Regions from separate parts of the Homo sapiens genome. Here region 2 is linked to region 1. Evidence: fine-mapped expression QTL. Tissue or cell type: visceral fat. Region 1 holds a variant in brackets; the other region holds the start of a gene. All regions are shown on one strand. Distances are between the middles of the regions.

Region 1 (5,528 bases):
TCCCAAAGTGCTAGGATTACAGACCTGAGCCATTGCACCCAGCCGGGACTATCGTTTTAATAATTCCTTAAACTGGGGTTGAAATCCTTCTGTTTTTCCAAGGGCCAGAAACTTTAGGGACCAGAAGCAGACCTAGAGCAGGTGGAGTGGGAATCAGTCCCTCACTGGGTTCCTGTTTTCTAAGGTTCCCAGTGGGATCCATCAGGCCTTGCTCAGAACGAAATAGAGTTCTGTCTGCTCAGAGGAGCTTCTAGTCCAGTGGTGGGGAGAGGGGGTAGACAGGAGTTAAGCTTTTACATGAGTAGAAATGGTGGGAAACTAAGTGTAAGAGTAAGATGCTATTAGAGATTGATTTTTAAAGTTTAATTTTATGTATTTATTTTTTAGAGAGGAGGGGGTTCTTGCTATGTTGCCCAAGCTGGCTTCAAACTGCTGGGCTCAAGGGAACCTCGTCCCACAGCCTCTGAGTACCTAGAGCTAGAGGTGCTGTGATAGCTAGAGATTGATTTTAATCTCAGAGGACATCATTTCAAAGATTTCCTGTTTGGAATTTTTTTTTTGAATTTTTCTCAGTTATTTGTATGATCTTCAAATATATGTAATATAAAATTACCATCTTAGTCATTTTTAAGTTTACAGATCAGTGGTGGTATTTAGATACAGTCATAGTATTATGCAACCATCACCACCATCCATCTCCAGAACTCTTTCATCTTATAAAAGTGAAACTGTACCAGTTAAACAGTTAACTCCTCATTCCCCCTCCCCCTTTTCCCCCCAACCATCTGTCTGTCTCTGATTTTGATTACTCTTAGGTACTTCATATAAGTGGAATCACATGACTTTTTATGTGAGTCACTTTTTTGTGGCTGGATTATTTCACTTAGCATAATGTCCTCAAAGTTCATCCATGTTGTAGCATGTGTCAGACTATCCTTCCATTTTAAGGCTGGATATTCAGTTATATATTCCATTGTTTGTATATACATTTGACCCTTGAACAACACAGGTTTGAACTGCATAGGTCCACTTATAACTATATTTTCTTCAATAAATATATTGAAAATAGATTTTCATATGTTGAACCATCCTTGCATTCTGGGAGTAAATCCCATTTGGTCTTGTTGTATAATCCTTGTAATATGCTGATGAATTGGGTTTACCAGTACTTTTTTGGGATTTTTGCATCAATGTTCTTAAGGGATATGAGTCCGTAGTTTTCTTTTCTTGTAGCATCACATCTGGCTTTGACATTGGGTATATGCTGGGCTCGTAGAGTAAGTTAGGAAGTATTCTCTCCTCTTCAATATTTTGTAGAAGTTTGAAGGATTGATATTAGTTCTTTAAAATTTGGTAGAATTGACCAGTGAAACTATCAGGTCCACAGCTTTTTTTTCGTTAGGAGATAATGATTACTGATTCAGTCTCATTAGTTATAGGTCTCTTCAGATTTTCTTTCTTCCTGATTCAGTCTTGATAGGTTTTGTGTTTCTATGAATTTCTTCATTTTATCTAGGTTATCCAATTTGTTGGTGTACAAACTGTCCATAGTCCTGTCTTAAAATCCTTTCTATTGGTGTAGAAGTAGTAGTAATGTCCCCACTTTTCTTTCTGATTTTAGTAATTTGAGTCTCTTTTTCTTAGTCCATCTAGCTTAAAGGTTTGTCAATTTTGCTGATCTTTTCAAAGATCGATTTTTTGTTTCATTAATTTTTCTGTATTTTTTAAAATTTCCATTTCATTTATCTCTGCTCTATTCTTTTTTGTTTTGTTTTTTTACAGGTGGGGTCTTGCTTTGTCACCCAGGCTGGAGTGCAGTGGCACAATAACAGCTCACTGTAGCCTCCGACTCCTGGGCTCACGTGATCCTCCTGCCTCATCATTCCAAGTAGCTGGGACTACAGGTATGTGCCACCACACTCAGCTAATTAAAAAAAAAAAAAATTTGTAGGAGCTGGATCTCACTATATTGCCCAGGTTAGTCTAGAACTCCTGGGTGAAGGGATCCTCCCACCTTGGCCTTCCAACATGCTGGGATGACAGGCCTGACCCACTGTGCCTGGCCTGTTCTAATCTTTATCATTTTCTTCCTTCTGCAAACTTTAAGTTTAGTTCTTTTTCTAGTTCCGTAAATTGTAAAGTTAGGTTACTGATTTGAGCTATTTCTTGTTTTTTTAAATGTAAGTGTTTATAGCTTCTATTCTAGCATTGCTTTTACTACATCCCATAAATTTTGGTCTATTGTGTTTTTGTGTTCATTATAACTTCTCTTGTGATTTCTTCTTTGATCCATTGTTTGCTTAAGAGTATATTCTTTCATTTCCACAAATTTGTGAACTTTCCAGTTTTACTTCTTTTTTTTTTTTTTGAGATGGCATCTCACTCGGTCGCCCAGGCTGGAGTCCACCTCCCAGGTTCAAGCGATTCTCCTGCCTCAGCCTCCCGAGTAGCTGGGATTACAGGTGCTCACCACCAAGCCCAGCTAATTTTTGTAATTTTAGTAGGGACAGGGTTTCCCATCTTGGCCAGGCTGGTCTTGAACTCCTGGCCTCATGATCCACCCACCTCGGCCTCCCAAAGTGCTGGGATTACAGGTGTGAGTCACCATGCGCAGCCTTCCAGTTTTACTTCTATTATGGATTTCTATTATGGATTTAGAGGTGGATGTGGTGGCAAGCACCTGTAGTCCCACGTACTAGGGAGTCTGAGACAGGAAGATCGCTTGAGCCCAGTAGTTCAAATCCAGCCGGGGTAACTTGGAGAGAATCCATCTCTGAAAATAAAAATAAAAAGAATTCCTAGGTTTTGAGAGCTCCTCTTGGTAGGGTGTCACCACAAGAAGTGGCATCAGCCCAGACCTCCAAGTGAAAGTGGCTTCTGCTTCCACTGTGGCTTCAATTATCTCCCTTCTTTTAAGGGTACCTCCTTCTAGTTCTTGGGAAATTCCACTTATTTCCAATCATAAATAGATATATGTTATATATGTATATTCTTTGGGTTTTAAAATTTTTCTTTAAATATATGTAATATATGTACATATATTATATATATATATATATTTCTATATATTTAAAGCCATCTATCATTTCTATGATTTGGTATAGAAGGGAAGGACTTCAGGGTCTCCTCAGTCCACCATATTCAATG[A/G]CAGTCCTGTCACACATTTTGAATACAGCCTGGGGGAATTATGGTATTTCTCTATTCTGAGAGTCAGGACAAGGCAGGAGGGACCAGACTTTGATGGCAGAGATGGGAAAGGAGAACGTATTAGATAAGATAATTTGGCTGGATAAGGCAGACTGAGCAATGGATTGGATAGGAACATGGCAAAACTGAGTAGACTGATCTGGCTAGAGTAGGACAAAAGCAGGGAAGAGGCACAGGGGATGAAAAAGATGTGAGGCTACCCAGATGGTGGCTTTGGGGAGCTCATTATAAACTTGACACTTTTCTTGCAGATCATATGGGGCAGAGAAAAAAGAGAAAATAATAAATAAATAAATAAATAAGTACATACATACATACATACATACACTTGATACCAGAGACAAAGGAAGCCTAGAAGCATATGGATGGCCACTTTGAACAGAAATATAAACCTTGTCCATATGCACAGTTACGCCTCTGTCTCCAAAGAAACTGCTTCTTGGAATGTATCTTAGTCTGTTCTGTCCAGGAGCTGGTAGATTCGGTGTCTGGTAAGGGCATACTTTCTGATTCATAGATGGCACCTTTTAGCTGTGTCCTCACTTGGTAGAAGTAAAGAACTCTGACCCTCAGCCCCTTAGAAGAACACTCATCTCATTCTTGAAGGTTCTGTCTCCATGACCTAATCATCTCCCAAAGGCGCTACCTTCTAATACAATCACACTGGAAATTCAGTTTTAGCATATGAAATTTGGAGAAACACAAACATTCAGTCCATAGTAGAATGGTTCCTAGAAGCTGGTGGTTTCCAGGATGGTTCTCAGGAGGCTAGAATCAGTGGGTGCCCCCAGTGAGATCTCTGGGAGAAATATCCCATTTATCTAGGGGACTGTAAGGACCCACAGCCAGATAGGTCCAGTACAAATTAAGAGTCTTCCACCTGGGCCAAGTCAATTTACCTCCCTGGACTTCTATTTTCCTTAAAATGGGATTAATTATGACCCTTATTTTCTGGGGTCATGGTGGAAATGAAATGAGATAATTTATTTGAAAATTTAATCAGCTGAATCTCCGGTAAGATGTCTGGAGAGGAGACTTTGGAAAAGCCTCTGGGGTGAGATCTCTTCAGAGGATGATAGGAGATTCACAACATCCATCTAGACTCTCATCTCCATTGGTAGATAGGAGTAGCTTAGTAAAAGTTTGCACTTGAGAAATGTTTGCACTTTTAAAATGTTACTCTGTGTGTGGAGGGGACACTGGATGAAGTTAACTCCAGAGTCAGTTGAAAGGCAACTACAGGCTTCTAGGCAAGAGATGATGGTGGGCTGGATTAGGATAGGGTCAACAGGGATGGAGAAGGAGGGTATGTGGGGATTGGAATTTGAGCTGGGATGAACCCCTGACCTATCAATTTTTTTGCAGGATCCCATAACTAAAGATCTAGTTCAGTCATCAGGCAACATCAAAGAGATGGATTCCAGTCTTCTCCAGGCAATTGAGGAAATTGAGAAATTTTTCCAGCATCTCTCTGAGCGGCATACAGAACAGGCAGAAACCCCAGATGCACCAGAACCACAGAACTGTATGCCTCTGACTGCCCATGCTGAGGAGAGCCAACATGAGTCAACCCAGAGCAAGACGATGCCTCCCTTGGGGTCCACAATGATGACTTCTGCATGCACTAACATCCCTGGGACAGTTCTCACCCAGGACTTAACAATGCACCCTCTTAAAGCCCTTGAAGACCTAAGTGAGACTTATTCCATGGGCCAGAAAGTGACTTCCTTTGATCAGGTAAAACACACAGCAGGCTCCCAGATGACAGATGTTACTGTCACCCCAAAGTCATCACCCACTGATTGCCAGAAGACAACCATCACTGCAAGCAACATGACAATCTCCAATGAAAGTAGCCAGCTGAACACCCCAAGCAGTGACCAGACCCTCAATGAGAGTCAGATACCAGCCCTGCTTGGAGATCAGATGAAGACCCTCAGTGATAACCAGACTCTCTGTGGGGACCAGGTGACCTTCAGTAGTGACCAGACCCTCACTGATGGTCATACAGTGACTTCCGGTAGCGATGAGACCCTCTCTGGGGGCCAAATGACAACCAGTCTAGACCTCTATGGAGGGCAAATGATGACTTCCATTGATAACCAGACCCTCTGTGGGGAGCAGATGACGACCTCCAGTGGTAACCAGGCCTTCTACGGGAGACAGATGACGACCTCCACTGGTAACCAGACCCTCTGTGGAGAGCAGATGACAACCTCCACTGGTAACCAGGCCCTCTATGGGGGGCAGATGACGACCTCCGCTAGTAACCAGACCCTCTGTGGAGAGCAGATGACAACCTCCACTAGTAACCAGACCCT
Region 2 (5,000 bases), 160 kb after region 1:
CATATCCACACGGGCAGACAAGGACCCACAAACGCCCCCAACCCACATATATACACCAACAGGCACATGGACCCCCGCATGGGCACCTGGTTGATGACATAGACGCCGTAGCGCAGCCGCTGCCGCCTCAAGATGGGGTGTAGATAGTGGAGCCAGTAGCGCAGGTGGTGTTCCCGGTGTCTAAAGGGGATGATGACCGCCACCGTCTGGGCTGGGGTGCAGTCGGGCGGTGTGTATCGGCCGCCCATGAGCACGCCTGGGTTCTCCCTCTGCACCCGCTCCAGGGGCATGGGTGAGGTGAACTCGATCAGCAGTCTGCCCACTGCAGACAGGACAGTGTCAGGAATCAGGGCATTGGCCAGAATCCACAGATACCAGCCCCCACCCTCAGCCTGGGGGTGGGCTAGGGAACCCCAAGAATAGCCCTCTTACAACAGACCTGGACCCCTGGCACACCCCTGGGTCCAGATGCCATTTCTCTAGTCAAACCAATAAAACCCTGTTTCCCCACAGGCAGGCCCTACCCTCCAGGCTCACCAAGACCAGGTGGCGAGTCAGGACAGGGTGGCAGCGTGGGAGCCGTGGGACCGGGCAGGGCACTGGGGACCTCAGGGAGCCCGGAGCTAGAGGCGGTGGCGTTGGGCCGGGAGCAGTTGCTGCTGCTGCTGCTGCTGCTAGCAGCTGGGTGGAGGGCATGGGCAGGGCCTCGGGCACTGAAGCGGCTGAAGAAGGCCAGGTGCTGGGCGTAGACGTCAAAGTAGAGGATGACGGCCACGAGGAAGTGCAGCAGGCAGAGAAGGAGCACAGCCTTGCAGACGCGCTCCAGCGTCCCCCCCAGCAGTCTGCTCATCCCGCAGGCGGCCACTGGCCCGCCCAGTGGGCCCGGGCATCCGGCTGCTGGCCTGAGCAGGGTGGGAGGGAAACAGATCCAGCAGGTCAGGGCAGGACAGGCAAGGCTGCCCACCTACCTCCCACTCAGCTGCTCACACTCGTGGGCCACACCTCACACTGACCTGCTCATACCCTTTCACACTCACAGACTCAAGAATTTACCTCCAAACAGACACCCAGGCACAGTTCCCGGCAACTCAGTACTCACATCCTCAAGCACACCCCACTACTAAGCCACATACATTTACCTTCCTCCACCTCACTGACACACACACTCAGGCACTCACCCTTATTGCACAACTCTACACACACACTCACGCATTCCCAGGAACACAGACACGTGAACTCTAACCACACTGGTTTGTACCTAAGCATGGAGACATGTTTACCTATAGACCCCCATGTGCCCCTGTGCCCCTGAGAACAGACACCTCACATGGCAGCATCCTTAACCCAGAACTCATGGCTTGGGGAAGAGGGAAGAGACGGAATACTGTGCACCTACCATGCAGGAGCACTTTATACTCATGACTTCATTTAGTCCTTCCAGGAGCCATGGTGGGAAGTGGTTTGGTCATTCAGATCCCAGCGACAAGCAGGCCAGGCCAACTGGGACCAGGCTGGGAAGTTGCCCTCAGCATCCGGGGGGCCCAAATACAGACTGGATGTTTACAGAATCCCTTCCCACTGGAGCAAAACGTCAAAATACGGGGCAAGGCAGGGGACACCCCTCACTTAAGACCTCAAAGCCAGCCCCTTGGGACTGGGACCAAGACTCTGGGTCCTGCCCAGCACAGCTGGTTCTGATTCCCGGAACGGGATGCTTGGGCCTGGAGATGGGCACAGCACTGGGCATGGCAGGAAGGGGGTCTTGCCTGGGCGATGGCTCCAGCTGTGGTTCCAAGAGAGCGGCAGCCACTTCTGGCAGTGCTTCAGGGAGCAGGGTGAGTCTCACAGGCACACAGAATCACAGGGACACCCTGGTCCCAGCTGGTCACCCACACTCAGACACACAGAGAACTACAGTCACAGACACACCCGGGTGACAGTAACACACTAAGTCCCACACTCACAAACAAGGCCACTGCTCCTGGACTTCCACAGCCATACATCCAGACTCTCAGACAGCTCACACCCAGACCCACGTGCAGACATTCCCACCCTCCCTCCGGCGCAGGGGTTCTGGGTCAGGCTGGCGGCCAGGCTGAGGGGTGCGTTTGGGCGGGGCTGGCAGGCTGAACACGTGGCACCCGCGGACGGGCAGGCCGCACAGACCGGGTGGGTGTGGAGCCTGGGGGCAGGGGGAGTGGGTGGAGGGCAGCGGATGAGGCAAAGGCCAAGGGGAAACGTGTATGGAACGCCTCCCCGCGCCACGAGGCCGGGGCGAGCGAGGACAATGAGGGAGGCCGGCTGGACGCGGGCGGAGAAGCCCAGGAGGGGCGCCGGAGTGGGGGCGGGGTGGGGGCAGCCAGGCCGGGGTCTGGCCGCCGGCGCCTCTCTCACCGGCTCCTGGGTTGGGATCTCGGGGCCGCGCTCGGGGTGCCCCTCGCGGGGCTGGGTCTGGAATCTCGGGGCCCTGGGTGGGGGCCGCGCGCGCCCTCCTCTCACCCGGCGCTCGGGGCTCAGCAGGGGACGCCGCTCCGACTTGGGCAGGGCTCCCGGCTCCGGCGGCTGCGGACGGTTCCGTCCCCCATGGCCCGGCCCCGCCGCCTCCCGCCGCCCGGTCAGCGGCCACCGCGGCCCCCGGGTCGCCTCCCGCCGCCGCCGCCGCCGCCGCCGCCGCGGGCCATGGAGCCGAGCCGCCCCGGGGGGCAGGGCGGGGCCGGGCGGCCGGGCAGACCCACGGACCGGCGGACCCACGGACCACAGCGCCGCCGCCTCCCTCCCGCGCTACGGCGCCTCGGAGGGGCAGGCCCGGCCCGCGCGCCCGCGCGCGCGCCCCCGCGGCCCCCGCCTCCAGCACGCCCGCACCCGCCGCGCGCCGCTGCGAGCCCGCCCTGCCGGCGGCCGAACCCGGGCACCCAGGAGGCACGGACCTGGGAGCGCGGGAGGAAATGGGTCAGGCTCGTCCAAAGGGTGGGCTTAGAGGTCGGACCGGCGAGCGGGTGCAGACCGTGGAGTCCCTTAGCGGGGAGTGGGGATTGCATTGGAGCGCGAACTCCCCAGGAAGGGGACCTGGAGGTTGGGCGGACTCAGGCTGCGGGGCTAGGGATTTGTCAACTCTTTAATTGGACCAAGATTCAAGGTCGGCCAGCAGAGAGGGGGCAGGACCCTTAAAGGCGTGGGCTGGAGGTGGCTGGGGCTTCTGGGGTAACAGGAAACAGGGTCAGGGAAGGAGAAAACGAGATTGGATGGGGTGGGAGGAGCTGCCCTGGGCCCTGGGAACAAGGATCAGAGTAGAGGTTTCTGGGAGGGGCTGCTGCTAGAAGGACAGGACCATCACTGGAGGCAGAGACCACTGCCTAGGCTCCAGGCCTCACAAGGACGGAGATGATGGTGCCCGACTGTACAACCAGGTAAGTAGATGCTGTCAGACAATTCGGGCATGGTGGTCAGTCAGAGCCCTGAGCAAACGGGCCTAGAAGGACTACAGGCACAAACACACCCAGGGGCCCCTATCTGCACACTCCCTCATCCCCAAACAAGTCTGTTTGGGGGTTAGAGTCCACCCAGCACCCGTGCCTCCCCACCTAGGAGCAAGCTCTGTGCAGATCAGAAGTGTGCAGTCAGAAAGCTGACAAGGGATTGGCATGAGGCTGAGGCGTACAGGCCTCTTTACCCTTCCTCTGTGAACGGTGACGCAAGAGGGCAACAGAAGCTGCACTGACCCAGACAAATACCAAGTTTATTTCACAAACACTAGGAAGATGGGTTGAGGGTGGAGGTGGGGGACACAGGTGCGCAGCTGCACAGAGTCAGCAGCAGCAGCCTGCTCCCCGCACTGAGGACTCGGCCTGGACTGCAGTGCCTCCAAATCAACACGCAGCAAGAGGGGAGTGCAGGGAGGGCCCTGAACACCAAGCCTCTGAAAGGCTAAGGGACACAGCTCCAGCTGTCCCAGGAAAACCAGCAATAAATAAAAGTGAGGCACGGCCCCACCCACACATATCATCTAGTCACCCATCTTCACTCTGGAGGTCTGCAAAAAAAGAACAGGAGAAATCAGGCAGGGACAGAGGAATAGGTAAGGCAGTGACAAATGATAGAAGATGACATCTAGCACATGGTTGGATGGACAGACCACAAGAGATATATGACTAACCAGGATGGACACACTGTGACAGACAAGGCAGACAGGGACAGACAACCACAGAGTTACGCTGTGGGACAGACGGAGAGAAGTGGCATATGGATAAAGCTAGTCACTAAGAATCAACTCAGTCAAGCACCCACAGTCACACTCAGACCCTCAGGCTGATCCTTAGTCACAAACTCACACACTGTCAGACAGACTAGACACACACAATTTAGACAATGGTGTCCTACTGACAGGCATGTGAGAGGGAGATACACATAGCTCCGAGAGACAGTCAAACACACCATGACAGACTGATATAGACAGACAAAATTCCATTCTAGTCTAGATCACAAATACAGACTGGAGACATGAAAAGCATGGCAGATAAAATGAGAGAACAGAAAGAGGGAGGACTAAGTGCTATACAGATACAACGCATTAGAAAGGGGGGAAAAAGAACAGGGCTGTTGTCAGTGACACCAAATCAGAGACAAAAATAGAGAGCCCCTGTAGGAGAAAACCAGAAGATGGAAATGAGGAGGTGGAAGCTGTTTGGGGGAATCTATAGTTATAGGTAGAGAAGGAGAGCACTTCAGCTTCTCCAGAAGGAGGGTAAGGCTAGGTTGGGGACAAGGACACAGAGGCTTCCCAAGGGGATTCATCACCTGAAGAATTGCGACGATGACCCCAAAGAGGCCAATGGCGCTGCCAAAGATCTCCACGATGAGAATCTTTACAAAGAGGCTGGGGTTCTGAGCATCGGCCAGGGCAGCCCCACTGCCCACGATGCCCACGCAGACTCCACAGAAGAGGTTAGACAGGCCTACGGTGAGGCCAGCCCCAAACATGGAGTAGCCTGGGAGGATAGAGA

Alleles and levels. Positions count from the first base shown, and alleles are read on the strand shown. Sizes are in standard deviations (SD) of each study's normalised expression.
For the expression in visceral fat of the gene that starts at base 2,801 in region 2, allele G in region 1 goes with a lower level than allele A (moderate effect, 0.52 SD a copy in GTEx).

The links. PIP is the estimated chance that this variant, and not a neighbour inherited with it, causes the effect.
Region 2: B4GALT2 starts here. The variant in region 1 is the best candidate, but not a certain one, in a credible set for the expression of B4GALT2 in visceral fat (GTEx, PIP 0.79).

Annotation. Positions count from the first base shown.
Region 1 is chr1:44,140,724-44,146,251 of GRCh38, reverse strand. KLF18 (KLF transcription factor 18) reads left to right here and starts at 4,621. Exons shown (of 2, transcript NM_001358438.1): 1 at 4,621-5,528. The coding sequence starts at 4,621. The variant A/G (reference allele first, on the strand shown) is at 3,148.
Region 2 is chr1:43,977,011-43,982,010 of GRCh38, reverse strand. It overlaps B4GALT2 (beta-1,4-galactosyltransferase 2), which reads right to left and starts at 2,801. Exons shown (of 7, transcript NM_003780.5): 1 at 2,500-2,801; 2 at 538-902; 3 at 87-322. The coding sequence starts at 850. It overlaps ATP6V0B (ATPase H+ transporting V0 subunit b), which reads right to left. Exons shown (of 8, transcript NM_004047.5): 7 at 4,795-4,985; 8 at 3,716-4,030. The coding sequence ends at 4,004. RefSeq lists silencers at 2,428-2,537, 2,808-2,907 and enhancers at 2,325-2,916, 2,917-3,507, 3,508-4,099.